2 separate regions of the Homo sapiens genome follow, and region 2 is linked to region 1. The links come from fine-mapping of genetic effects on gene expression. A gene starts in region 1. The other region holds a variant in brackets. All regions are shown on one strand. Distances are between the middles of the regions.

Evidence for each region.
Region 2: its variant is fine-mapped to the expression of ETAA1 in lymphoblastoid cells (GTEx, PIP above 0.99).

What each region holds. Positions count from the first base shown.
Region 1 is chr2:67,389,357-67,405,083 of GRCh38, forward strand. ETAA1 (ETAA1 activator of ATR kinase) reads left to right here and starts at 7,977. Exons shown (of 6, transcript NM_019002.4): 1 at 7,977-8,315; 2 at 9,813-9,941; 3 at 10,194-10,270; 4 at 13,506-13,618; 5 at 13,869-15,727. The coding sequence starts at 8,093.
Region 2 is chr2:67,308,156-67,323,882 of GRCh38, forward strand. No RefSeq gene overlaps it. Among named protein-coding and RNA genes, the nearest start is that of ETAA1, 81 kb to the right of the region's middle. The variant T/C (reference allele first, on the strand shown) is at 7,167.

The DNA.
Region 1 (15,727 bases):
TTATATCCTAATTGCTCAAAAATGTTATTTTAAACTTTAATATGTTTTAAATGCTGTAATTTCCTTTCTAAACAATCAAAAGCCATTTTCAGCTTGGGCCAGAATATTCTGCATAAATAACCATTCACCAAAAAACTATTTGCATCTAGGACATTCCTAGCATTCCTAGGCCTGCACTTGGCTAGGGTAACCTAAATACTATTAAGAATTGTAAAAGTTTTGAGATTTTACTTTTACTGCAAGATAAAGAAATTTGTAATCGTCTCAGACACAGTTTAGGAGTGTTTTATGTTAAAATTATGGTGGCAGAGTGAATGATCTGGATCCTGCTGCTTGAAGAAGAGTCAAGGACAAGCTTTAAAATCAGGCCATCTTTCTGGGATTCATAAAAGCAAGAACACATAAATGAGGACTAAATTCCATTATGGCCAGTGGAAAGAAAGTTATTAACCCTGAATAAGACATTTTGGGACTGCTGAGGGTTTTTTAAAATATTCTTGAGGTTTCACTTAAAGCAGTAGAGGAAAATGTCTTTCAAATTACCTCTATGACACCCACAGCCATTATTCCTGAGTAGATATAGGCCAGATGGGGGTTGGTATCTGAAATGATCAGTGGGGTTGGATTCAATTAGTGCTACTAAGTGCTGCTTGCAGAAAGCAGTGTGCAATAGTATGCCCCACATCAGAACTGGGTAACCTGCTTCCCTTCATCCTTCTACTGACATTCACAGACTGAACTCCCAAGGGTGACTTACTTAGAAAGGGACCCTTTCTATAGTAGAGCTGCTTTTCCCAGCAACCTCCAATTTCTCAGCCCTTGTAAACTGCCCCAAGCATTTATAGGCTTCATTTTTAAGCCTATAACCTAAAGTATAGGTCTCTCTAGGTCCAGGTCTGAGCTCAACCACTGAATTGAGAGGTTTAAAATTGATGAAAGCCTGGAAAACATAGGTAAGATGAGGAACTGTCAAAGAAACTGAAGTTACTTAAACTAGAGAAAGGAGAATGAGCAGTAACAGAATCAGTGGTGTGCTGTAGCCAGTTCATACTAGCTTGTAAGAGCTGATTATTAAATCCCGAGTAATTTTGCAAGCTTCTTGTCGAACACAGCCATGAATCAAAAGTAAATATGTCAACTTACCTATTACAAACAAAAGTAATACAAAGGGGCACGAGGAAACTTCTGGGGGTGATGAATAGGTTCATTATCTTGATCGTAGTGAAGATTCCAGGGAGTATATTTGGTACTGTAGAACGATTGCCAAAAAACATTGCAACTTTATTTATCCCATTATGAGCTTTTAGTACAATTTCTCTTAAGTTTATCCTTAGTAATTAAATCCTTATGTCTCACCTAGTGTCTATTCTTAAATCTATCATTTGCATGCTTCATATATAATATTTTATGCATATTTTTCTGGTTTTAAAAGCAATACATCTTCATTGTAGATAATTTGGAAGAAAAAAAAACAAAACAAGCATTAGTTAAATCCCACTACCTAGAGATAATGTATAGTCAATATTTGGAATATTTCATTTGAAATGTTTGGGAGTATATGCACATACTCATGTGCATATGAATAGTAGATACGACATGCATAACTTGCTTTTCTTCCATACCACGGTATAAGTATTTTATTTTGTTATACAAATTTTTTACTTTTTTATATTAGCCGTTAATATATTAAAAATTAAAATGTTACATTTTTAAAGCTAGCCAGTTTTTTAGCCCCATATATGCATAAAAATACATTTTTTATTTGGCCTTTAGGAAGACTTAAAAGACAGCGACATAAACTAGAGATTCTCAGACATTAAAATGCGTCAAAATCACCTGGAGGGCTTATAAAAGCTCAGATTTCTAAACCCACACTGTTTCTTACCCAGTATGGGGCCCAAGAATATGGATTTCTAACAAGTTCCCAGGTGATACTAATGCTACTAGTTTGAGAATTATTGGTTTAAACAAGTAAGGGATTGATGAATATCAAAGGGTAAAGGATTGATGGCATAGAGCTAGGCCACCCAGGCCAGGTACTGTGGTTGCATGATACCTTGGGAACCTCAGCTCCTTGAATTCTTCTGTTCTACTACCCTTAGAGAGTGTGGCTTTAGGCCTCATAGTCCCATCATGACCTCTGCAGTTCCTTGTTTCAATCAGGAAGAAAGATTTTTTCCAGAAGCTCCACCTCGGGACTTCTGCTTATGGGTTTTAGCTTAAAACTTTGTAAAGTGGACCCCTTTACCTGTAAGAAAGGCTTACAACTATAGTTGATTCATGGTCAGTTGGCTGGTTTTAAAGCTAGCTATATTCCACCCTGAGCAAAATTAGATATGACAGACATCCTTATCTGCTTCATAATTTTAATGAGGGATTTTATATTTCATAGGTCAATTTTTTTTCTAGGAAGTAGGATACAAATAACTTTTAAAAAAGGAACAATCTGAGCTGGAAGGGGATTTATAGAAAGTGTTAGAAATTTGGAATCTCTATTTTGGAGAAGAGAAGCATGAGCTGCTCAGTGACATTGTCATGTGCCATTGAAAGCTCAGCTGATGACTATAGGTTCATGCTAGTGCAGTAAAGAATCTTTACAATATAACAGCCCAGGAGCTGAGAAAACAAATAGCATGATTGATTCAAAGCTGGAGCCTAGTAAGAAAAGTATATTGGTAGGTTCAGAGGGTAAGAAAATCGTAGAAACTGATAGAGCAAAGGTTGAAATGTCATCCCCAGGAGTATGGGGCTACAGAGAAATAAAAATACATTCCTTATTTCTCTAACTGTTAGGTCTTTATGCAATAATTGAACCAAAAAAACTTAAGAAAAAGTGATTTCAGATGACAGCTAGTCTCCAGTATAATTTGTCTCAGGTCCAAAGGAGTCACTAAAATATTTTAACTTCCAGCTCCATATTTAAATGGGATTTTGTTTCATTCTATTTTGAACTTTTAAAAATAATATTCTTTTAATTGAGAAACAATAAGACTACAACCCTTGACCCAATTCTGGTGTTTGTTCTATGTTTTAGTTCAGGTTTCTTTTTAGATGTAAGAAATAGAGACCAACTGGCATTAGCTAGCCCCTACCTAACAAAGGAAGTTTACTGTAAAGGCTCACATTGAAAGAAAAAAGGACTGGTATCACAGTAAAATCTGGTCTTACGGACATTGAAGCTGAATGGTGGTTGGGTTTCAAGGTATCCAGAGTCAACAGATGTTGATTCCAGTGGTCCCCAGTCTGCATAATTCTGCTACTTCCTTCAGTTCCACTTTGAGCAAGCTTCTTCGTAGTTTCTGCCCACCATGGTTTTGCACAGGGCCCTCTAGCAAATTCTTAGTTCAAATCTCCAAGAAAGAATAGGATTGTCTCAATGCATCTTTTTGTGTCAGTCAGAGGTGGAGAAGCTGGCTATGGACTGGTTCCTAAAATCAGGTGCCCATGTCTAGTCCAGTCATTTTTACCCGATTGGGCCCGTCTGGCCAGACATGGTCACCTAGGCAGCAGAGGCTCCTGATGGAGCAGCTAGGCATAATAGGTGGTTCTAGCTAATACAATTGCAGCTATGTCAGGAATAAGGAAAAATGGGCCCAGCACTTACCCAGGTACATTTTGGGGTGGAAACATTGTAACAAAACTGTTAAAAACAAACAAAAAAACAAAAACCCTCTAATCATTGTGTTGCTTGTTCAGATTCTGCCAAATGCACTCTCACAGATTTGGAGCTGGAGCTCTGTATATAAAACACAAACATAATTCACATAATTATGGATTTTTTTTTCTTGAAAGGAAGACTGCTCACAGTTAGCCATTGATCAGTAGCATTGACCCATCGTTGTAATGTAAGTGAGGAGGCAATCACTGGCAGAGAAGCTCCTTAGTAACTCAGACCTTCAGTGTCACAATTTTTGCCTTAATAATTATTGTCAAGTTTATAAATAATCCCTGTAAGTGAAACAAGCAAGAGTTTCACTTTGGTTTATTACAGTTTTTAGTTGCAGTAAACCTTACTTATATGTATAAATTATTCAAATGCCTAGAAATGCTGAGCTATGAATCATATTGCATTCAAACATCTGTAAGACTTTTGTTTCACATTAAAAACATTTTATTAAGGAGTTAATTGTGTTATACTTATTTCAGGAGCTATAGTCAGGAAGTAAATTTAATTTGAAGTACACTTAGAAATGTAACAGATTATGTAAAGTAAGTAATTTTCAAGTTAAAATTTACTATAATTTCCTACCCCATAATGATTACAGGTTACAGCCATCCTAGGTGTGTTAAGACAACACGTCTGTACTTTAGGCTCAAGTTGTTCATTTCAGCAATGGTTACTTGGGCACTATAGAATTTGGAGTTATGGTAAAGTATTCACTGTTATTTTATTTGCAGCATTAATATGCTTTAAAGGATTACTACATGGTTATTTCTCTTATAAACATCACTAAATTCTTTAAACTTCCTTAATTACTTTCTAAATGTGAGTTGGATATTTATTTGGTAAATTAAGTTCTTTTTACATTTTTTTTAATGCTTCTAGGATTTTTGGTCATTTGAGAGGTAGGAGAGATCTCTGAGAGAAATAGTAATATTCCTGCTAATTTATACAAGTGAAGGTTCAAGTAATTAATTTGAATTTTAAAAGATGTAATATCACTTGTATTCCAGTCTTATCCGGTTATAAATAAATAAAACTAAACAATGGTTTAAATACATGTAGGTAAAAAACAATCATGGAAAGAAAAAGTATTAGTAGAAGGTCAAACACTGAGGAAAAATAATGGAATTATCTATTCACAACGGTTTATATGGTTTATATAACTGCTAGCCCTGAATCTCAAATTTAGTTCTAGGATTTCTGTCAGCAAAATTAAAGAGTAAAAACAGAATAGTTTACAAGATAGAAGAAATATATCAGCTCCTCAGTAGGAACTAAGATCTTTGCCTTACATTAACATTTTAAACATTTTAATTGATAAATATAACATGTGTGTAGAAAATGAACAAAATGTACAGCTCAGTAGATTACCACAAAGCAAATACTTTTGTAATTAACAACTAGAACATGAAAATAAACAAAGCCAATAAATACATGAAATTCTCTCCTCCCTCTGTCCACTTCTAATCACTGTCCCTTCCCCCTCCCGAAGGTAACTATTATCCTGACCTTTATGGTAATCATTCCTAGATTTTTCTTTATCATTTTAACACTAAAGCTTACATCCCTATACAATATAGTAGAACTTTGCCTGATGGAATTTATATGGGATTTATTTAACATTATGGAGGAGGGTTGGGAGGTCTAGCTTTTTTTTGCTCAACTTTATGTTTGTCAGATTTATCCATGTTGTCGCACAGAGTTGTAGTTTTCATTTTCATTGCTATTTTGTTGTGTGAATATAGTTCAATATATTTATCATTCTACTGTTGGAAAGCATTTGGTCCACTTACAGTATGAAGTAATTTTGAATTGAATTTTACTGCTAAAAGCATTTTTCTTCTTCTTTGTTTTTTCTTTTTTTTTTCTGTTGCCCAGGCTGGAATGCAGTGGCACAATCATGACTCACAGCAAGTCAACTTCTGGGCTCAAGTGATTCTCCTTCCTAGTAGCTGGGACTACAGCCATGCGCCAAAATGCCCAGCTAATTTTTTGTATTTTTTGTAGAGATGGGTTTTCGCCATGTTGCCCAGGCTGGTCTCAAACTCCTGGGCTCAAGCAGTCCACCTGCCTCGGCTTCTCAAAGTGCTAGGATTACAGGCATAAGCCACTGCATCCCACCAAAGCATTTTTATAAACTGTATCTTGATGAACAAGTCCATGCATTTAAACAGAGAATATTCCTCAGAGTGGGATTGCTAGATCAAAAACTGGTTTCCAAAGTGGTTGTGCCAAATTATACTCTCACCAGCAGTACGTGACAGCTTCCATTGGTTTACTGCCTCAATACCTATATTGTCAGTCTTTTTAACTTTAGCCATTCTGATATGGTTTTCATTTGCATTTTCCTGATTAAAAATGAATCTGATTTTTCCATAAGTTTGTTGATAATATTTTCTCTTGTGAAGATCCTGCTCAAGGGTCTCATCCACTTTTGGTTTTGACAGTCAATCATTTCCTTAGTGATTTGTATCAGTTCTTCATATAACCTATATATAGGCCCTTAAATATGTCTTATAAATATTTTCTCCCAATTTGTGCCTTGCCCTTCCTTCTCTTTAATGTTGTTTTTGAATGGACAGAAGTTCTCAAATTATCAATTTTGTGTAGTCACATTTATAATTATGCCTGGTGACCTTTGTTTTATTTCAAATGCGTTCTGTCATGAAGACAATTTATACCTTCTAAAATGTTATTTTATCTTCTACAATTAAATTTATAATGAATATATATGCACCTGATTTGGGGATAAAGTTTGAGGTAAAGGTCATGTTTCTTTCTTTTTCTACATGAACATCAAATAGACCAAGCACTATTTAATTTCAAAAGTCCTTTTACCATTGCTCAGAAGGGTCACCTTTGTCTTAAATCGTGTTCATTTATATGGAAGTCTGTTTCTGTGCTATCCTGTTTCTTTCATCTTTGTCTATCCTGACACCATCATAACACTGTCTTAATTACCATATAAGTCTTGATACCTGGTAGATATCAACCCTCATTATTCTTCGAGAGATCTTCAAGAGTTTATTGATATTTTTGGTCCCTTGCATTTTCATATAAATTTTAGAAAAAACTTACCATGTTACACACACACAGTCACACACTGGGCCTTCATATGTATTTATGTTGAATCTATAGGTCAGTTTGGAAATAGCTGACATTGTAACAATATTGAGTCTCACAACCCATGAACATAGTGTAACCATTTATTTAGGTCTTCGTTTTCTTTCAAAAAAAAAATTTTTTTTTTTTTTGAGACGGAGTCTTGCTCTGTTGCCCAGGCTGGAGTGCAGTGGCGCAATCTCGGCTCACTGCAACCTCCACCTCCCAGGTTCAAGCAATTCTCTGCCTCAGCTCCCAAGTAGCTGGGATTACAGGCACCCGCCACCACGCCTGGCTAATTTTTGTATGTATGTATGTATGTATGTATTTACTTATTTTACACGAAGTCCCCCTCTGTCGCCCAGGCTGGAATGCAGATGCGCGATCTCTGCTCACTGCAAGTGCAGTGGCGCAATCTCGGCTCATTGCAACCTCCGCCTCCCAGGTTCAAGCAATTCTCCTGCCTTGGCCTCCCCAGTAGCCGGGACTACAGGCACGCACCACCATGCCCGGCTAATTTTTTGTATTTTTAGTAGAGACGGGGTTTCACCATGCTGGTCAGGCTGGTCTTGAACTCCTGACCTCGTGATCCGCCTGCCTCGGCCTCCCAAAGTGCTGAGATTACAGGCTTGAGCCATGGCGCCCGGCCTCAAAAATGTTTTATAGTTCTCTTTGTAGGAAGGACAATCTTTAACTTATTCCTAGTTACTTGCTATCTCATGCACTATTATAAATAGTATCTCTTTAAAACTTCAATTTTATATCTGTTGCTAATCTATTGAAACACATTGATCTTTGAATATTGACTTTGTATCCAGCAACTCTTAAATTAATTTAGTAATTTTTTCTACTTTCTTTTGGATTTTTCTATGCACATAGCATCTATGAAAAATTAACTGTATTTCCTCTTCTTGAGAAATTCGAAGACTCTCAATAATCTGAATTTGACTAACGTGCAATTTTCGTTGTAAATTCAATAAAAAGTTGCTAGTGTATTCAATCTTTCCAACTCACAAGCTCCCACTCTCAGTTTACGCGGACCTGACTACTACCCGAACAACCCCCACCAGTCTGGAGGATTTTGAGCCTAGACACTCCTCCAGAGCAGGCTCCTGTCCCGGCTGCGGAAGTGCGCGCGCCCTCGGCACCTTAACAGTTCCGCCCCTCTCCCGGACCCAGCCAATCAGCGGCCGCCTCTTGCGCGCGCCCCACCGACCAAAATGGCGGCTGCCGTTGGTGCGGGGTGCGGTTTGTAGTGCTGTTGCCCTACTCATCCCTTTGCAAAATGTGAAAGAAGAAGCGGCTGGTGGAGGCGGGCCATAGGCAATGAGTCGGCGAAGGAAACATGATGACAGCCCTAGCCCGAAGAAAACGCCGCACAAAACAGTGGCGGCGGAGGAATGCGGCTCGGTGGTCGAGCCAGGGAGGAGGCGGCTGAGATCGGCCCGCGGTTCGTGGCCCTGCGGGGCTAGAGAGGGGCCTCCCGGGCCAGTGCGGCAGCGAGAGCAGCCTCCGACCGCCGCCCTGTGCAGTAAAAGTAACCCCGAGGGTGAGACGTCGGCAGCGCGGCCTGCCTTGGCTTCGGCGCCGCATCCCCACATCCCAGCTTGCAACAGGGAAATCTGGGGTGGGGGTGGAGTCTGGAGCGTGTATTCTGTCTCTGGGATTCACCCCTCGAGAGTCCAAAAATAATCCTATACCACTCCCCGATGGGCTTTTGTCCCCGAACTTCAGCACTACCCCGTTAGGTTTGACCATCCATTTGCCTCCGCCACAGGAATAGGTAATGTGGTTTACCTGTTTGCGGGAGGGCGGCTGCTTTCCAGGCTGCTCCTCCAGTCAGCAGCAGTGGTGGAGTGAGAAGAAACAGCTGATAGGCCCGCTAACCTCAGTTTTTGCCCGGAGAAGTTATTTCTCTTTAAACCCTTTTTTTCCCTGTGACCTGCTTTAGAGAAGAGTTCATAGGAAAAGTTAAAGTTTGTCTCAAAGCCTGGTAGATGTCTCACCTCATTGTGAATAAACCGGAAGTTCCTGTGTGTAACATCCCTCCAAATAAGATACTAAGGATCTCTTTCGTCTCGATTAGTTTTAGGTGTTACTTTTTAAAAGACTTCTAGTAAATCTTAGTTGGAACTGAAACTCATACAAAAGCCTTTATTCTGGAGCATGTTCTTGAAATAGTGCTTTTTTTTTTTTTTTTTTTTTTATACCTTACGTGTCTTTTTTCTTTTGGGAAAGAATCTCGCCCTGTCGCCCAGGCTGCAGTGCAGTAGCACAATCTCGGCTCACTGCAACCTCCGCCTCCCGGGTTCAAGCGATTCTCCTGCCTCAGCCTCCCAAGTAGCTGGGACTACAGGCGTGTGCCACCTCGCCCGGCTAATTTTTTGTATTTTTGGTAGAGACAGGGGTTTCACCGTGTTAGCCAGGATGGTCTCGATTTCCTGACCTCGTGATCCACCCGCCTCGGCCTCCCAAAGTGCTGGGATTACAGCCACCGCGCCCGGCCACCTTACATGTCTTTAATAATACTCCTATAAAGCAATTTGGGAATGAACAAAAATCTTTATAAAAATTTGAAAGTGATTCTAGACAAAAATTCCCAAGCATTGGATCACTAATGGTTTTTGAAGAATGGCAATTAATGTAGATTAGATAGAGTTGGTGAAAGGGGGCTAAACATATTTAGGTTTCTGTTGGGTTACTTTGGATTTTTGAATGTACCTATAAATTACAGATGGTTCCCCAAAGCCTCCAAGACTCAATGGTAATAAATAGAATGACTTAGGTTATACAGTATTGTATTATGCATTCATAAAGCTTCTGGATTATCTAGAAGTGTTTGCTATTTACAATGTGAAGTTTGCGAAGTGCCGCGTGGATTTTTATGTGAAACAAGCATTTCTGTTACGGTTCAGGTAATTATCTCTGGGAAAAAAAATTATCTTGGACTATAAAAGTTAGTCTCAGCTATTTGACCTTGGGGTCTTACGAAGTAAGGTAATGCTTTAAAATGCAACAATTGTTATTTTACTCATATTTTATATAGAAAGGTATGAAACACCAAAGAGAGCGCTGAAAATGGACTCACTGTCATCTTCCTTCAGTTCTCCTAATGATCCAGATGGACAGAATGATATCTTTTGGGATCAGAATTCTCCATTGACAAAGCAGTTAGGTAATTAATTATTAACATTTTTTATGTGAGTAAATATTTGATAAATGATTCAGATTTAACTAGAATTCTAGTCAGATAATAGCATCGGGAACCTCTGAGAATGTTATATGATTTTATCTGTATAAGTATGTGATGTAAACACATAATCCTCTAAGCTGCACTAAATAAAATTACTTTCTAAGAAGTGACAGCTGTTTTTTAAAATGGAGGGTTTTTTGTTTAAAATTTATAGAAATGTCTTTGTTTCTTTAGGTAAAGGAAGAAAAAAACAGATTTACACCACAGATAGTGATGAGATTTCACATATTGTTAATCGTATTGCTCCTCAGGTAAATATCACTAGTTTTACAGTTTGTTTTAAAACAGTGAAGAATGTGCCACTAAGTTTTTGTAGTTTCTTTAAATGAAAAGTATTGTCTATTATAATTCTTTTTTCCAAAAATAAGGCAGCAAAGATTACTGTTTTGCCTTTTCTACTTTTGAAATACATATTTTGAAAAAAGGAATATAATATAAAATACAAGATATTTTCTTAAGTATATATCTTGTTTTAATTTTTTAGAGTAATTTTTGACTAGGGCATTGTGTTTATCTGTAATGTTGTGCTTAACAACATACGACATCATTTTTCAAGTTGCTAAAATAATAGAATAAGGCAGTGAAAAAAGTTTATACTTCTATGATTGTTTTGTGATTGGTACTTCCTGTCTGTAACATTTCCCCATTGAAACTATTAATACTCATTTCCTTATAAGATTATCAAGAAACACTTACAAAAGTGGAGAGCACTGAATTCAAATTTAGTCCTCATTCAACCTCCTATGCTGTGTGACCCAGTGCAAGTTATTTAAACTCCCACCACTTCAGTTCATTCAGCCATGAACTAGAATTATTGTGTTGCTCTTGCTGTCTTCATTGGATCATTATGAGAATTAAACTAGATAAAAATTCTTTGTAAACTATAGAGTGCTATAATTGTAAGGTTACGTTAAGGTTGTTACTGTAATAGAACCATCTCCAAAGCTTTTTTTTCTTTTCTTGGACAGGCATGGTGACTCATTCCTGTAATCTCAGCATTTTGGGAGGAAGGCTGAGGCAGGAAGATTGCTTGAGGCCAGGAGTTTAAGACCCTGTCTCTTAAAAAAAATTTTTTTTTGAGTGTTTCGTTTCTTTTTTTCATTTCTGTTCTTTTATTGTTTGAGTGAAATAGAAATATGTTCAAGTCAATCATTTGACACAAAGCAATCCAGTAACTCTAATATTATAATTACTAAGAAGCAAAGGCTCAATACGTGAAACTGTTCTGAACTTCTTTACTTTTTGTTCTCTTTTTCTTATTTAACATTTAAATCCAGAGAACATTTTTGCTTAGTGTCTTCTCTGAAGGAAGTATGCCATTTTTCCTTAACCTGCGCTTGAATAGTTACTATATGTTGACCATAAACAATAGATGGCACTGGCCCAAAACATGGTTTGAAGAATTACTGTCACCCAGGTGGAAGAGACAGAAAATGAAGTTTTTCTTAGCAGCTATAAAATATCCAAAATTACACCTAGCACAGTCAAAACAACTCTGTTGCTACTAGCTCTACATTCCATTTTTAGCATGTCATAGAAATTCATTTTACTTACAGTTAATTAGTTAAATAGCATTTATGCCATAATAGTACTTACTCTATAAGTTAACAATAGATCTTCATTAATTGTGGGTTTCACATGAAAGAAGCATAATAAAATGTGTTTGGGTGGGCCAGTCTAAATAGTGATAAAAAGATAGTTGTGAATAAATTATTGGACTCTTTACCTAAGTGGGCTAGAAATAATAGCTCATATAAAGAAATGACAACAGTACGCAAGTGGTAACTTGTATAAAAGAAAAAAATATAGTGAAATTAGTAGCTTTAAAATGTTACCCTCTTAAACTGAGTACTTTTAAAGCATATAAATCTTTAGCAGTTTCAAGGTCTGTTTGAAAGCTTGTCATGTTCTCAGAATGACAAATACTTATATTGTTTATTTTTAGGTGAGTCATTCTCAAATCATTTAGTTTTAACATTTTCAGAGATAGCATTTTTTTAAATATGCGCTTTTATTTTGGTTGGACAGTCAGTTCACTTTTTGCAGGGATACTTTTATACAATGTTGTTTATTTGAAGATGGTATGTATCTTCATTTATACAGCTTTGCACAGTATACTTTTTATAATGAAATGAAGTAATGCATTTAGATACCTTATACAGCACCTGGATTATGGTTGAAAATCAATAAATTATGTAATTATTCATGAAGAAATATGTAATAACATGTATAAATAGTATACAAACATACATAGGACCCATGTATATGTAAAGTTGGGTACATAAAGTCATAATTTAGTTCTCTGAAAATTGAATGAATTTAAAATTACTTTTGTAAATGGCAGAGTTCATAATTAAGACTATGATTGTCTTTAAATTCAAGATTGTTGAAATAAAAGGGAAAATATATTGAGTCTGAAAGTGAAATTACTGATTTTCTTGAGTATTTGCAAAGCTAAAGGCAACTAGGTTCAAGTTGACATTAAGAAAACTTTTTTGATTCATTGAGGATTTGAAGTACCAAACTGTAGGGATCTTTTCACCTAAATCTTCTAGTAAATAAATGTATACTGACACTGGTATGCCCAATATTGTGCTGGATGCTGAGTTATTCTAAGAAGAGTCCTTGCCTTTGAGTAGCCTATAATCTAGTAGTAAAATTATTTTTTAAATTGTGTGATATTTATGTTCATTCTAGGTACTATAAAATAGAGTGAAAATGGTTACTTGATTTGATTTGTTGGTTTGGTTTGCAATTAATGCCTAAAGCTCATTCTGTAATTTTTTTGTGTGATCAAGTGACTGAAAGGTACAGCAAAAGTATCCAGGTCTAAAATGCCTTTTTTCTGTATATTATCTGGGCTAAACTTTTCTGTTTTCTCTATTTTTTTATTCTTATTCCTGTCTCATTCTTAGCATCAGTTCTAACCTTGCTCTTATCTCTTAATTCATTCCTGATCTTAATTCTGAGTGTTCTTAATTTAGGTCAACATGGATTGTCCAACTTTAGATAAAGATTATAATAAGGATAAAGAAAATTTGGAGAAACAGATGATACAGAAAGAATTCCATATGTATCTCCTCTCAATTCTGATGATTTCTGCCACACAGTTTCTGACACTAATGTTTTTATAAGTATCTTAGGACAATTAAAATGTCAATTTTCTTTTGATAAAAACATGCTTCTGTTATTAAATGTACATTTGATAAATTTAATTCTTAAAACAATATTTTTTTAAAATAAGCAATTTGTAATTCTGAATGTTTTCATTCTCTGAAACATAAGTGGATCAATTATTGTAGCTTATTATTGCTATCTCCCAACTTCCTATTGTTTTTGAGTTTGGTAAGTGTTACCTCACCAGAATTTAGGAAATTAATTCAAAATCATTAGTTTTTATTGTCTTTTTTCTTTCTTTTGTTTTTTTGGAAGACGGGGGATGCTACACTGGTACTTTATACCTCTTTTTTTCCCTATCTGCCAAAGGATGAAAAACCAACAACAAATTCTATGCTGGACATGTGGATTGGTGAAACTGCTATTCCTTGTACTCCCAGTGTAGCAAAAGGAAAATCAAGAGCAAAAATCAGCTGCACAAAGTAAGTTAAGACTTTTCAGCTTTTCTGAAATTCAGTGAAGCAAATATTTTTTGATAATACTCCATTTTGGTTTTGTGAATATATCAAAATTTTTGTTAATAAAATTTCCACAGTTTTGATCTATCAAATTTTGGAGTTAAAATAATTATAACTGTTAAAATCTTAGAGCTTTAACATCAAAATATGTTAAATAACAGTTGGATATAATGTTTCAGAACATTTTTAGTTATTTTTTAATCTTGTTTAATAGGTTAAAAACACAAAGTCAAGAAGAAGAACTTATGAAACTGGCTAAACAATTTGATAAAAATATGGAAGAGCTAGATGTGATTCAAGAGCAAAACAAGAGGAATTATGATTTTACCCAGATGATTTCAGAAACAGAGATTTTAAGTAATTATAAAGATAATATACAGATGTGGTCATTACATAATATAGTTCCCGAAATAGATAATGCTACAAAAAAGCCAATCAAAGGAAACACCAAGATATCTGTGGCAAATAATCAAAATAGCAGTCAGAAGCCATTTGACCAAATTGCTGAAGCAGCCTTTAATGCTATTTTTGATGGTTCTACTCAGAAATGTAGCGGACAGTTAAGCCAAGAACTGCCAGAGGCTTTTTGGAGCACCAGTAATACTACCTTTGTAAAGACAAATGCTTTGAAAGAGGAGAAAATCATTACTAATGAAACTCTGGTCATTGAAAAACTGTCAAATAAAACCCCACGATCACTTTCTTCTCAAGTAGATACACCCATAATGACAAAATCATGTGTGACTTCCTGTACTAAGGAGCCAGAAACTTCTAATAAGTACATTGATGCATTTACTACAAGTGATTTTGAGGATGATTGGGAAAACTTACTAGGTAGTGAACCTTTTGCTATGCAAAATATCGACATGCCTGAACTCTTTCCTTCTAAAACAGCCCATGTTACTGATCAAAAGGAAATTTGTACCTTTAATAGTAAAACTGTTAAAAATACGTCAAGAGCAAATACAAGTCCAGATGCCAGGTTAGGAGATTCAAAAGTATTACAAGATCTTTCTTCAAAGACATATGACAGAGAATTAATAGATGCAGAATATAGATTTTCACCAAATTCAAATAAATCAAACAAATTATCCACTGGAAATAAAATGAAATTTGAGAACTCTTCCAATAAAATTGTTATTCAAGACGAAATTCAAAATTGTATAGTTACATCTAATCTGACAAAAATAAAGGAAGATATTCTTACTAACTCTACTGAAGCTTCTGAAAGGAAGTCAGCTTTGAACACAAGGTATTCTAATGAACAGAAAAATAAGTGCATTTTAAATCAGTCTATTAAAGCCCCTGTTAATACTGATCTTTTTGGCTCTGCAAATCTAGGCAGTAAAACCAGTGTTAGTAACCCAAATCAGACTAGTGCATCAAAAGTAGGTTCTTTCTTTGATGATTGGAATGATCCCTCATTTGCCAATGAAATTATTAAAGCATGTCATCAATTAGATAATACCTGGGAAGCAGATGATGTAGATGATGATTTGTTGTACCAAGCATGTGATGATATTGAAAGACTAACTCAGCAACAAGACATTAGAAAGGACAGTAAGACATCAGAAAGTATATGTGAGATCAATAATAATTCCGAACATGGAGCCAAACTAACTCAGCAACAAGACATTAGAAAGGACAGTAAGACATCAGAAAGTATATGTGAGATCAATAATAATTCCGAACATGGAGCCAAAAACATGTTTGCTATATCTAAACAAGGAAGTAATTTGGTACAATCAAAGCATTTGAATCCAGGCAGCATTTCAGTGCAGACATCTTTGACAAATAGCTCACAAATAGATAAGCCAATGAAGATGGAGAAAGGGGAAATGTATGGAAATTCTCCAAGATTTTTAGGTGCCACAAATTTGACTATGTATTCTAAGATCTCAAACTGTCAGATAAATAATCTGCATGTGTCTTATACTAACACTGATGTTCCAATACAAGTGAATAGTTCCAAATTGGTTCTTCCAGGAAGTTCAAGTTTGAATGTAACTTCAGATCATATGAATACAGAAATTACTACTTATAAGAAGAAATTGAGTACTAATCAGCCATGCC
Region 2 (15,727 bases), 81 kb before region 1:
ATAAGCAACTTAAGCACTTTAATTAGCTTTCTGTTGTGTTCCATAAAGTCCCTGTCCTGTTTCTAATTACTTCCTTTCCTATACCCTGCAGCAAACCCTTAGAAAGTTTTTCCAACCAGATTCAACCAGATCTGTGTAAGAGACTGTGTTTTGTGGTACTACATATGGGTCACATAGTTTGTGAAATAACTCACTACGAAATGATTATTTCTTCCCCCTTTCATTAAGCTCTATTAATCCAGATTGGAAAAAAGGTTCATGTTGACACTCTTCTGCCTAATTAACTTGTTTGAACTGTATTCAGCTCCATAGTGCTGATGTATGATTTATCAGAAAGCCTCTAAGCTAAGTTATAAATGTAATGTTTTCAAATCTGCCTCAAGTACAATCACTCTAATGGTAAATACCAAATTATGTTCCATTTGGGATACAAACCAAGAACATAAAAAGTAAGAATAAGAATTCTTAGCTGTGTTTAGGCTGGGTGCGGTGGATCACGCCTGTAATCCCAGCACTTTGGGAGGCCAAGGCGGGCAGATCACGAGGTCAGGAGTTCAAGACCAGCCTGGCCAACATGGTGAAACCCCATCTCTACTAAAAATACAAAAATTAGCCGGGCATGGTGGTGGGCGCCTGTAATCCTAGCTGCTCCAGAGGCTAAGGCAGGAGAATTGATTGAACCTGGGAGGCAGAGGTTGCAGTGAGCTGAGATTGTGCTACAGCACTCCAGCCTGGGCAACACAGTGAAACTCCATCTCAGAAAAAAAATAAATAAATAAAGAATTCTTAGCTGTGTTTTCCATTTGGCAAAACAATACAAATGACTAAGCAAGTATGTCCACAAGATTGTAGCTAGGGTCTTTCCCCTTTCTCTGGAAAGAAAGATTAATACTCAGAATGCATTTTTACATCAATTTTTATAAGTTGATATCAAATTATTGTGAGATTTGATGTTTTACTGCTTTGTTTTGTATTTTTAAGGAGGTTGTTTTTAATTTTTTTAATGGCACTTAGCAGGTCTCTAAATGAAGTGTGACAGATGTTTTCACCAATTCACAGTATTTAGTGGCTGAGGGTGAGACACACAACTGTGATTCTAACAAGAATATGACACTGGAGAGGATATCTATGAGATGACTGGCAGACTCCACACCAATGATCCTGACAGGTCAGTATTTTACTGGGAACTCACAAGACTAAGCCCCTCAAGGAAAAGGCCCACATCTAAGTTATTGTGTGTCTCTATGCTTAGCACAGCTCTTATTCCTCAGTAAGCACCTCATGCATGTTGAGCAACCAGGACCAAATTCCAGTTTTTATATTTACTGTCCAACACATACTGAAGGCCTCTTGAGTGAAAAGCTCTATTTGAGTCATGGTGAGTAAATAAAAAAGGAAATGTCCTTGGTCACAAGCAAATTACAATCTGATGGCACAGAAAAGAACAACACAAGAGAATATTTCGCACTACTAGAGAAATACATTGGCTTTCTTAATAACAGTTTAAAATTTTTGAATGATTCTTTTGTAGATTTTAAGGCACTGTTGTATACAATTCTTTTTAATGTTCCCAAGAAACTATGAAGAAAGTCTAATATTATTGAATCCATGGAACATATTGATTCCAGAGCTGGAATAAGAATTTGCATGCTTTTTTCTTTCAGTGCTTCAGCTGCTTTTTTTGGATAATGCTTGGTTGATTACTGCAAGTTCTGCTGGTTTAAAACAGTCAAGACGTACATTCTATTCACATGATCACAGATATTAAGATCTCATTGTTCTTTAATTTTATATATGTTCAAGTTTAAATAACTCTTCTACTCTTTGACAAAATGTTTATTAGAGATTTGGGGTTGGGGGACATATGAGAGGGATTGCAGGAATGCTTTCAGACTACCTTCCAAATGACTCTTTACTCTAAAAGCTCTCCATTACCCACCAAACTAAGTCACTTAGCATCTATCTATTATCAAAATAAGTCACCTATTTTAGACCAAGGGATGGACCTTGATTCTTAGTAGAAGATATTTGACCACTGGATCTCAATCAATAAATCATCAAAACCATTTTTTCAACTTCTCACTTTCAAATTGTTGTTTTGATAATAATCACCTTTTTCAAAAATTATCAAAAATGATAATTTTTGGTGTGATCATCCATGTTTCCCTACATTGACTCCAAAAAATAGTATATTGCAGTGGTTCTCAACATGAATTCAGGCACCAGATCAGCTGAGTTTGAATCCTGTGCCATCGCTTATAAACTATGTAACTGGGCAAGTTTCCTAACCTCTGTGGGCCTTCCTTTCTTCATCTATAAAATAAAGATAACAATAATACCAACTTCATAGAACTGTGGTGAGGATTAAGCAAATTACTATATCTAAAGTATTTGAAATAAAACTTGGCACAGAACAAATCCTTTCTATATTTTTGTTGTCATTAGTAATTATATATTTCTAAAGTACGTGGCAGTCATATTGTATAAAGACTTCACAAAAATTTTGAGATCAATCAATAACAAGTTCAGCCTCATTACCTGCACCAAGTACCACAGATAGATTTAAGTTCCCACTACAAAAACAAGATCTGCAAAATTTCATATAAGGATGAAACTCTAATACAGACCTTTTGCTCTTAAACATAACCATTTACCACATCTTCAATTTTCTACTTTCCCTTCAAGTCTGAATATATGTCACATATATTTTAAGATTTAATTCTAACTCCCTTAAAATATAATCATCAAGAAATACAATTGGAGAAGTATACCAATCACACTTCTACAATTGTCCTTCAAAAATTTTATTACATTAACCTTCTTTCTTTTTGTTCCTGTGAAGACTTCACATGAATATAGATCTGGGGAAATTAATACAGTTCACCCCTATTGGTAGTTCTTATTAATTTCTGTTAACTAAATGTATGCAGCAATTTTTATTGGAAAATGTCTTTTCCTTTATTTTTCCACTTATGCTAACTGTGTTCTGGGAGAAGTGGCAACATTTCTTTTCAGAATCCTTTTCTTTTTTTAGGTTTGGGTTGAATCAAATGATGAAAGGAACTAAATAATACCACAGATGATACAGATGGCTTGCACCAGTGTGGCAATAGTTTAACTAGTAACTCTACAATTGCTGGACAATCTTTAATTTTTTTGTGATGACATTATTATTTTAAAGAAAAGTCAAACAAATACTTGGTTCTTTAAGATTTTCACAGCAGCACTTTATATATGCCCTATAAATTTTTATATAATTTATAATAAAATATGTGATATACTTTCTTTTCTAGATATGTTACTCAATCTGATATCAGAAAGCTTCAGCATGACTTAATTTTTGAAGTCAAAGCTTATGGGAAATAGCAGCAATTTCCAGTGACCTGATAATACAAAAGAAAACAGCATAAATATGTGTCTTGGAGCTAAGTGGGTGCTAGTGTAGGCCTTGTAAGTTAAAAGCAACATTTTATAATCTTGGCAAGATGTAATGGGTAGTCAAAGTAATGAAGCTAACCCAGGCATAATGATTAATCTCTGTGTGAGTCACGACCCTGGCAGCTGCATTCTAAATGAACTGCAATCTATATAATGCATTCTCAGGAAGACCAGACAACAAGAAGTTGCATTAGTCCACAGATGCAGATGGTAAGACTGCATGTAGAAGCATACTCAGCTCTGGCCTATAAGAGCAGAGGTCTAGGTTGAGCAATATTCATAAAAGGATAGTGAAGTTTCATGGATATTTACTGGCTCCAGTTTATCAAAACGAAGTGTGGCATTAACCCTTATCTGATTCAGCTAACAGCTGGAATATTTAATGATGTCTCCATGGGAAAGGTAACAGAGTGGGATCTTGTAAGATTGGTAGGAGCATAAAAGCCATTCTGGATAAGAGATACAGCATAAACAAAGCTATCACAGTGAGAATTCATAAGGTGTATTTGAGGCAAATTGACCACCTCTGCTAAGTGAAAGAATAAAATTGATGTTGAGAATGGTAAAAGACAAAAATGTCAAGTTTAGCCCATAAGTAAAACAATTTAGCAATCCTCCTTTAGAAAGGCTGGCAAGGCCTGTTGTAACTAAACAATGATAGGATGATTGGCATTATTATTTGGAGGAGGCTAGATATTGGCAAAGAACCTCATTGTTCTGGCAGACAGTTTTCAGAGTACACAAATAGATAATCTGGAGAATGGATCAGGAAACTTACAAGAGGGAATATTTTTCAGGTAGAAAAAATGGTAAGATGGGCTTCTTTATAACGACTAGACAATCTGCTTTGCAACAAAGACTCAAAGTTAGTACAGTGTCATGGAATGGGTTCTGCACTGGATGACAGGGGACATGGAAATTAGTCCTGGCACTGCCAACACCTGGCTCAGGACCGATTTCCGTGGACTGCAGTTATCCATAAAAGAAAGATGTTGGGCCAGATGATTCCTGAGGACTCATCTTTGTACAACACTTACACATGACACTTTAAAACATGCCTATGCTGATGGTCAGAACCTCACTGCAGTCAGGAGCCATCATTCTGACAAATGCCCTTGAAAAATGCTCTCATTGTCTATCTATGTTTATACACTTTTATTTTCTAAGCACATATATGACTGCAAAAATAACCCCCAGTCTGAGTGTTCCAGTCTCATATCCAGCAAGGGAAGATGCATATGATGATGGTAACTAAGGACTATATATGTATTAACTCAATCCTTCCCATGGTACAGATAAAGAAACTGAGGCATAGAGAGATTATATAATTTGCCTGAAGTTGCACAGCTAATAAGTGACTGAGCTGGGATTAGAAGATAAGCTGTGGGGCTTACGGTATGCAGTCTTACCCTCTCTGCAAGTCTTGCCTCTCTAAACATTGTGGAGCTGTGCCAGGGCTGGTGTGAGAACTCAAGATAATGTCTTGGATAAAACATCCTTTTTAAGGGAACTGGTGGTAAGAGGCCTCATTTCCAATGAGTGCTTGTGGCCAATGTGTTACAAGTTTCCCCCAAAAAGTTGTTCAAGGCCATATCCTTGATAGCAATTTGCTTGCATATGTGAGGTCTGACTTCCATTTAGAACCATATTGTCTCCAGTCCCACTAGCCTGTAGAGATTTTCCCTTTGGACCTCTTCAGATATTAACGGCCCATGTCAGCAGAAACACTTTAGCCTTTTATTTCCCACTCTGTCCCCTTCCTCAATATTTGTCCCAGTCAAATTTAGCTTGGGGTGGGAGAGAGTGAAAAAGTGTATGCAGCTAGTCTGCCTTCTGAAATCAAACCTGACACATCTGCTTTCTGCATACTTGAAAAGCCAATAACCCTTTGGTTTCCTGAACATTTCACCTTGAAGATCTGGGAAAGAAGAATCAAGAGTGACTCTTCAGGGATCATAATCCTGACCAAAGGCCCCTCCCCAAAATATTAATTCATTCTCTCTAATGCTTGCATGACAGTCTAAGGTCACTCCTAAAACATGTCAGCTGCTCTTCAAGCTGATGGAGGTATGTGTCATTAGAGACTCTTGTTAAAAGCCCCAAGTACTTCTCACTCTGACCAGGGTGTCAGAGGTAAAAAGTCCATGAGGGTTTTATCTGCTGATCTAGCCAAGCCTTCCACAGCCACACAACCTCCAGATGGCAAGTTGTCTACCTTTAAGTCACTCTTAGAAGATCTTCAAATGCTTATTGCAAAGATGACATACTTTCCTTGCAGCTCATTTTACTACATTAAAAACGTTAAACATAAGTGTCTCTTGAGGTGCTTTTTCTCCCTTCAAAAATTATTTCTCTGAATTAAAATGTGTTTATAGAATTTCAGACAAGAATTAGGCAATCCCTTCTTTTTCACCTGCCAGTGGATGTCTGAGTGCAGACAGTCTTTCTGAGAGCAGGAGGTCCCCAGGGTTACTAGTGTAATTCTTTTTACTCCGGGGTGCTCAAGCACAGAATTGCTGACAATCAATTTGCTTTCACATCCTGGCATTAAACTCACTGTATATAAAAGTATCACAAGTATTTTCAATATAATTCTAAGTAGCGGTGATTTAAAAGGCTTTTTATTGTAGTGAAAAAAATTACAAGGCATAGTAAAAGCTGTACAGCCTATTTGACTGAATCCAATCAAACACATGTAAGATACTCCATAACCTCAAAATGGGTAAAAATGACTTAAAAATTAAGAAGGGCAATTGATAGGAGTCTTTTTTATATATGGCAGATGAAGCAATATACCTAAACAATATTTTGACCTTCTGGTTTCTAAAAATATGGAATGAATCATAATTTAACTTAGTGCTATAGGAAAGCAGGGACCTTTCAAAGATATAGCTCTAGCTATAAAACTATAGGTATTGACAACATCGTCGCCTAAGTATACAGCTATTTTTCGAGGCAAAACCAAAAGACTTCTAACAAAATATATGTTATTAGTTGTCAGGAGTACAGATGATGTCTACTGTTGCTGTTTGATTAGAAGGCAGGAAGCATGACTTAGACATCTACAACCACTGCTATTCAAAACAGGCACCATTAATATCCAGGTACACACAATACCCTTGAACCTGAACATAAGTATAACATAAATCTAAAAATATTATTATAACTGTCATGCAGTACCTGACACATAGTAGGCCCTCAATAAATATTTTTTGAATGAATGAATGAAGGAATAAATAATGAACAATATCATAGGCAGTCTGCTTTTCTATACAATTTTAAAAGAGTTATTTTCACTTTTGTCTTTAAGAGAAATGAGTAAAGCAAATTAGAAAATTGAATTACAAACTGTGGCTTTATAGCTGTTTGATATACAGACTACAAAACTATCTCTTCTGACTTGGTTCTCAACCACTGGTTCCAAGTCTTCCAGGTGTTTATGCAAAGGCAGGTCTCTCCTCCCACCACCATCAAATGGCATGGTACTGAATCCCACAAGAGCTAATGGAAATAAGACTGAGTTTGTTATTTTATTAACTTAAGAGGTAAAAGAAATACAGTTGCCAGATAAAATGCAGGAAGCCCAATTAGACTGAACGACAGATAAACCATGAATAATATTTTAGTATAAGTCTGTCCTAAATATTGTATGAGACATATTTATACTAAAAATTACTTATGGTTTATCTGAAAGTCTATGTTAATTTGGTACTATGTATTTTTATTTG[T/C]GAAATCTGGCAACCCCAGAAGGAAAGCAAATGTTCTGACTAAACACCAGTTGTTTCCATACATCCAGACTCTGGTAGGATAGGTGAACCTTTGAGTAAGAAGCAATGGCACAATTATCCTGATCCATTATTCAGTGATGGCCAACTTTTCGTACTTCACTAAAATGATATTTTTAAAGACCTTTATCTTGCAGCCATGCTACAAGTTGAATAACGCTTCTAAAGACACTGATAGCATTACATGTAGACAGTGAAAGATTATGAAAAGTGAAGAAAGCAAAGACAGAAAATATGTCAAAAGGCAGAATAAACATTTTTTACATTAACAGTCCCTTTTAAGAGGATATTGGTAGCTTATATGTTTCTATAAACTTATATTCAGATAGATCAAAGATAAAAATGACCTCTCAAAAAGTCTTGAATTTTGATATAATGTCAACTGTGTTATTATACTGTGAAAGAAATTTAGTGTTTATGAAAGGTGGCAGATTGATTGATTGATTATTAATATGTATTACGTACCAGTAAGAAGCTAGAGGCTATTCAAACATGCAGGCCAGGTCTCCATGGCCTAGGAAGGAAGCAGCCTATCTTGGAGTGGTGGGTTACAAGGTCTTAAAAGGTCAGGATGACATATGTTGTTGCCGAGCAGTGAGTTGAGATATTTGTTCAAATGAGATCTGACAATCCACAAAAGATAGCTCGATAGAAAATCCTTAAAACTAAGTTTATCATCTAAAAACTAAAATTGGAACTTTTCCTGCTATTTCAACAAAGGGAGGCATTATGTATATATTCATATATATACACATACACACACATATATATGTATAGCTCACAAATATTCTATATATGTGTATATATACACACGCATCTACGTACATATATATGTATATATATTCTTCTCCCTTCCCTTTGACTGTGTTAATAATCTAGATTTGGCTGGGCGCGGTGGCTCACGCCTGTAATCCCAGCACTCTGGGAGGCCGAGGTGGGCAGATCATGAGGTCCGGAGATGGAGATCATCCTGGCTAACACGGTGAAACCCCATCTCTACTAAAAATACAAAAAAATTAGCCGGGCGTAGTGGCGGGCGCCTGTAGTCTCAGCTAGTCGGGAGGCTGAGGCAGGAGAATGGCGTGAACCCAGGAGGCGGAGCTTGCAGTGAGGCGAGATTGCGCCACTGCACTCCAGCCTGGGCGACAGAGCAAGACTCCGTCTCTGAAAGGCTGCAGAAATACTGTTTTCACAGTTTGGAACTCTACTGGGAAAAAAGGGCCTTATTTTGAGGCCTGGATCAAGCTCTAGTGTTGGTATTGTCAGGAAGCACTTTAACCATGTCTGCTAAGGCCTGAAACTGTGAACACAGGGGAACTCACTCATCTTGGTGGGGCTTTGCTTGATAGTTGGACATCAAGGGGGCCCTTGAAATAGAACTATTATGCTCAGAAAACAGACATATATATATATATATATATATATATATATATTTACACATATATATTTCATAAAGTTTTCGTAATAACACTGTATGATCGGCATTATTTTTTTGTATTACCAATAATAAACTGATAGGATTAAGAGAATTGAAATAGTTGCCCAAGATGACAGAACCAAAACTTGGTGAATCCAAGATTCTAATTCAGGCCTATCTGACTCATGCTGCACTATAATACTTCTAAATCTGGAACATCTCTTTCACATTAAACAACGTATCAGAATCTTGAACTAGTCAAAGGAAAAGCTTTATTCAAAGGGAAGGCAAACAAGATAATTGATTGCTTCTATTTTCAATGAGGGCATTTTCTTAGATTAATTATAAAATGGTGATTCCAAGGCAAATAAAAAGAGTTTCTATCATGAAACTCTTTCAGGTAACTCTTGGGGTATGGCATTTTCCAAAATAAATTATTAGAAACACAAAACCTGAAGTTACATTACCCATTTAACACTAAAATTAAAAGCAGAAAGCTAATTAGGAAAAATAGACTCTGTTACCTTTATTTTCAAGGATTAGAATTCTCTTAAAAGTTACAGCTAAATAAAAAGAAACCATAAAATAGAAACTTTAGATCACAGCACAAAATAAACTTCAAATCAGATAGTAACAGGCTGTAAAAGCGTGGCTTCTAGGGTCATATAACCCAGATTAAAATCACAACCCCACCTCTTACTAGTGATGTGATCTTTGCCCCTCTGAGCCACAGTCTCCTCGTCTAGAAAATAAATACGATAATAGAACCTATCTCATAGGGTTGTCATGAAGATTAAATGTAATACTCCATGTAACGTACTGGGCATACAGCCTGGCAAATAGCAAGCAGTCAACAAATATTAGCTCTTATTTTTATCATCATTACAACCTTTTATTTAAAATGGATATGCTGACGTGAAATGAGGGGTTTGCATTTATACCTACATGTTTCAAAGCTAAAGACTCCTGGACACCAAAAACCCCAAATAGTTTTCTCTAAATAGATATTAAAATGTTCCTGGCAATAGCTGCTTTTAAATAACTCATTTTCCGAGGCTGAAGCACAGAGTTCAAAATCCCAGGCTAAGCCCATTTATACTGCCCTGTTGTAAGATGCTGCACACAAAAGTAATTATTTGGCTTGCAGACCCTTTGTCACCCGAAAGCTCCCATAGCCACACAATTAAGTTTAGGCCACTCGGGGTTTAGCATTCTTTTTCTGAAATGGAGTCCACATGCATTACTCTGTGTGTGTGTGTGTGTGTGTGTGTGTGTGTGTGTATGTGTTTCTGGATGAATGATACAATCTACAGAGGTAGAGGAAACATTACAATGCTTAAGACTGGGTACTTCAACATCCAATTAGAGTTGGGTGAGTTGTGCGGCAGCCCCAAAGGCCAGATGCTAAAGTGACCTGGTGCAGCCCAGCACAGGCCATCACCTATCCCTCCTGCATGGAAAGCAGCCTCTAGGGATTCCACTGAGCCACAAAGCTGAAGACCCAGGCATGCTGCATTTTTTTCCTCCTAAAGAAATTTACATGCTATTTTTCTACCCTGTCCCTGAGCTGGGATATTGAGGTTAAAATGTACCTACTGAGTAGGTAATGCATTTGGTATTAAGGATCCATCATATGCGTATGTCTTCTGAGCGTAATGGTTCCTTTGGAGCTATTATAGGTATGCCGTGAATAGATATTAGAAATAATACACAAAGAGTGACTGAAGGAGATCCCATATTAACTACTGTCAGACTTTAAACATTATTCTAAAATAAGTTTTTAATTCCTAGGGTTTAATACCTCTATACTTTGTAAACTGAGCACTTTTCAAAGAGAGCTCCAAATTCCTACAGAGCTGTCTTTAAGTGAGCTTTGATCTTTGCAGAGCACCTATCTTGTGTTTCTATAATTGCTGTGGTTTAACAAGGCTCCCTAGCATGTGAAGGGGGGCAAATCCTTTTATTAAGGCTATAAACCTAACTGACCATAGTGACGGAATGTGCAGCTTGGTGGTAGCCCTTAGCTCCCCAGGAAAGAAAAAAAAAATTGAAACCAGGGAGTCTTCATGTTAAAACAAAATGAAATATTTATTAAACATGTTTCTGGTGTCCCAGGTGGTAAGAGGCTGCCCCGTGGTCCGCTGAAAGGTTTGATCTTTGTTAAGTATTGTGAATGCTGATTTCAATAATGGGGTGAAAGCTGAGGAAGTTATGGCTGAAATTTTGGCTAAAGATGACAGCTCTAGGTTTCAAGTTGCACAAAGCAGTCTGAGGGATTAAACCAACAAAGCCTGCTCAAAAGTATTGAGTTTCCAAAAGTGTAATCTTCCTATCAGTGATTCACACTCCTAGGATGGGGAGGATTCCTCATTTTTTACTTTGACTTTGCCATATTAATCTTACTTAACAAATACATGTGGTGATTTATATCATGTTTAATTAACTGATTGAGGGCGCCAGTGGTAAAAATGGCATCGCATTAAGCTCTGTCCGTATGGCAAATTCGAATCACATCCTTAGCCTTGCAAGAACAAAATATCCCGAGAGTCACTGATGACAGGATGTAGGAATTGAAATCAGGTCCCTCCTGTTGTTTGAGAATCTAGGGAGGGTGCCTGCCATATGCCCATCACTTCCAGCGGGGGAAATGACAGGATAAAAGAAAGGAAGGCTCTAGTTCTTCCAATATGTTCAAATCTCAGATGAAAATGATTGTGCAGCAGTGCTGTACAGAGGCCAAGATTCACATGAAAGTACATCTCAAACTTTGCAGAGAGCTTAATGAGAGGGTTTTGTGGTGTTTTGATATGTGGGGTTTTCTTTTGTTTTGTTTTCTGAAATGGCTGCTCAGGGTTTTTGAGAACTGAGAGGCGAAAAAGCTGTCGTTTAGAGTTAAATATAATAAGCAGGATTTTTTTAATAAAAGAGGGAATTATTATTTAATAAAATATAAGTGCACTATGATTCCATAGAAATCAAATTAGGTTTGAATACTAAAACCACACGTTGGGATACTGGTTTTAAAATTAACATCTTTGGAAATTGGAGTTGTCTAATTTTTCCCCTCAAAAATCTATGGTGATTATTTATGACATCTAAAGAAAAAGTATAAATTGATTACTGATAATAATTTTGAAATTTTAAAATGCATTTTAAATTGCATGACAACATAATAAAAGTATGAAAAGAGGGTAAAAAATCCATTTCAATCTTCAATTTGATGATTAACACTTTTGTGCATCCTCTTTTAGTGTTTTGTTTGCATGTGTTAAAATTATTATAATCATGCTACACCTTCATCTTGTATCCTTTTTTAACTTAGTATTTTATCCCATATTTCTCATACTGCTTTATACCAATTTTATTGACTGCATAATATTTCATCAAATGAATGTTGTCATCTTTTCCTAACCAAGCTTCCACTGCTAGATATTAAAATGCCTTCCAATGTTTGCTATTATAAACAATGTTATAAAGAAAATTTTTATATACATGGCTTTTTCCACATTTTGAATTATTTCCCTGGAGAGATTTCCTATACCTGTTCAGGTTGCCATACTGTTTAGGTTTCTTAAAAGATTGTATAGAAGTAAAGACATTTTTCTTCCAAGGAAAAGTAGAAAGTAAAACATTCTATAATGGTGTCATTATACAGGAAAAAAAAAAAATCTTACTTGAAATTAACATGCAATTTAAGTGATGACTTCACTCCTATAGTAAGTATTGGCGACATGAGAAAAACATTTAATTTTTACTCTAAATTAATTTGTTCTCTAAATGTTGTTCTCTAAATTTAATTTGTTCTCTAAATGTTGTGTTCTTCTTTAAAATAAGCATATGGTGACAATGAAATAAATTCAGAATTTTCTATTTTGTTTTACTCCTCACTTATTGTTTTGATTTAGAAAAAAAGTCCTTTCAAGTATAATTTAAGTTTTGAAATTTTTAACAGTTTCCTGGAGGATATTACAAGTGACTATTAAGCCAGCATACAGGTCACTTTTTAAAATGATCATTATTTTGGTTAAATCTGAAGTATGGTCCTCATAATTAATAATCCTAGATGTTTTCATGGCTTCAATTCAGAATATGATGAATTGGGTAAGTTAGGCAATATATTTTAACTAAAACCACTTTGGATTTTGACAAGGAATTCAAACTTTTCAACTGTGCTGTGTTGCTGCATAAGCAGCCTGTAAAAAGAATAATCACCTCAATTTTTTCAACTTCCTGGAATCATTCAAAACAGAGTAGTTAAGGATTGCTTCATTTGGAAGTAATAAGTTCCAAAACGGTCTGCCGCAGTATAGTTTAATTACTGGTCTCAATTCTCAACCTTCTAGATTTTCTTAACTATCCTTTTTTTGTTTTCAAACAAAAAATGTACAAACTTAAAATTCTATTGGCAGCCTAGTTTATCAAAAAAAGTTAGCTGCTTTATTTAACTTAGTCTATGATTTTATGAAATGCCATCAAATTCAAGTCAAGGGTATATTAGGGATCAAATAATTTTGGAAGCCAAAAGTGCATTTCCCTAGATGGTTTCTTCCAGCCGATGTTATTATTAGTCTGAGATCATGTAACAGCTTTTGTTTTCCAAATCTGTTCCTTTCAGTGAAGTCTATTTCTTTGCATAGTTTAAAAACAAAGGATAAACATTCCTTATGGGGCACTGGAAGGAGAAGCAATTCATGTGAATTTGATAAAACATAATGTACTGGACTGACAGTAAAAAGGCTTTGCTTGTTTGATTGTTGACTGGTTTTGTCTTTAAATAATGGTCTTCTTTTGGCATTTAATGTATATTTGGTCACAATAAACATAATTTATGAATATTTTAACACATGCATACTCAGTGGGGTGGATTATCATACTGATATAAATAGAATTAATGAGCAGTCAACCCGCCACATGCCACGACATATGACGGGGCAGCCAGTGCACAGAAATAATCCTCATAGTTTCATAATAAAGCTTTTCTCTTAGTTCAACTTTTTAAAACTACTTACAGTCTTATGTCCCCTTTCTGTTGGAGTATGGTTCACCAACCTGTGAAACAAGATTAAGATTTTACTACAAGAATCTATTTCTTTGGCATTCAAAAAAACAATTTTCTTGCTTTCTCTAAAACAAAATAAATATATTTGAACAAACTAACTCTACTAGGCCAAATTTCAGGGAATAGGTTATAGACAGACAAGACATATGTCTACTAGAAAAAAATTGTTATATTCTTTTCTTTTCTTTTTATGACAATAACATGATTATGCTCAATTGCTGCTACCAGATCTTTACAAGAACAAAAACTTTCTAAATAGTTCTACATTCTAAAACAGATCCGATGGGCATATCGCCTGGATAAAATTATTCTGGAAAAAAAAATCTTCTTAGCCAGTTATCTGCTCTCCTTGAACACAAAGCAACAATCTGTTAAGCGTGCCTAATAAGATTTTTTTTAAAGGAAAGAACTCAGTAGTATAAAGCCACCTCTTCAAATGGTAGGTATTGGGGGGGAGACATGGGCATGCAAAATCTTCAATTTAGCCATGCTTTATTCAACAAATAATTATTTTTGTGAAGAGACAAATTGAAATTTAAGATTAACCTTCATTTGCCTTATTTCCACAGTTTGATTACAGGCAAAAGTGGGAAAAAATAAAATTAGCATGTGCACTGCATTGTCCAGATGATCTGGCAGGAGGAGAGCCTTGGCAGAGATATACTATGACTTTTTACAAATGCAGATGGCAGTGTTGCAGCCTTTATTCCTCTTATCTTTCATTTTCAAAGGGAACACTCGAAGCTTTTTGCCACCACCCTCCTCTACTCCTATCCTCACATGTAAAAACACTGTATCCCCAAATCAAAGCTCTTTCCTAAAACAGGCAAGCCCCAGGATGCATCAGGGAAGGGACAGACTGTGACACCATGCTCCTGGTCATCTGTGAGAGAAGTGCACTGTGCTATGTGGGCCAGGGCCTGGTGAACTTGCCCAGAGTGACTCCCTTGGGGAATCCAGCCCTTTCACCAGCAAAGAAAATGGGCACCACCTAGTGCTTTTTCAACGCAAAGGCTGTTTGTGCTCATGTGGACAAGAGTGGGCATGCGTTGGCTGACCTTTACAAAGGAAAAAAAAAAAAGGAGTCAGGTGGCTTTAACCCCTATGCCAACTGAAAGAAGAAGCAAGTGACAATCTTAAGACAAAGGAATTCAGTGCTTCCAAATTATAGATTTCTTTGGTTTTTTTTTTTTTATAATTATTGGTCTGTTCATGAGAAATAACATCTTTACTTACCAAGACACTAATTTCCTCTGTATCACCTTTTTGCCTCCTCATGTCCTCTGAGGTTAATTTGTAAGAATTTCTAAGAATTTTCATTTGGTCCAAAGTGACATAGCAGAACCAGCGCTGGCCCACCCCCACCCCCAAAATCTATTCTAACAAGCAGTCTCTCTGGAGTTCTCCTAACACAACAAATAGCTTTTATGAAAAATGATGTGTAGCACAAAATCTTTTGCAGTGCAATAAGATCAAGTTAACCACTCATGCCTCTAGGAAAAAGCCTAGGAAGTTTTATCTGATTGGCAAAATGGACCCAGATATGAGTTCAAGGATTGAGTACAGTTTGATGAAATTTCATAGCAATGAAGTCTGATTATCTGAATGATTGCTTAAGCCTTTTAAAACATAACTCGAGGAAGCACTAGATTTTTCATTGGGAAAACAGATGGTCTTGTAGGGAATCGTAGAACCACCATCTCATGCTGTTTACTTTTTCTGTAATACTTTGCCTAGAATTACTCTCACCACTATTGCTTTTTAAAAATAATAATGATTTCTTCATTGCTAAAAGGTAGATCTTTCTGCAATAAAATTAGAAATCTTAGTGGAGGGCAAGGTGAAGGGCAGAAATGGGAAAAATGAGTAACCTGCTATACCTAACTGGATTAACAAGGACCTGTAACATATCCAGGAACTAACTGGCTGGCTCTGAACTCATTAGGGATCTGCTTATCTGTTATGCTGTACAACAGAATCCAGACAAAAAACAGACTGTGAAGAAACGGATTAAAAATGATTGTAACT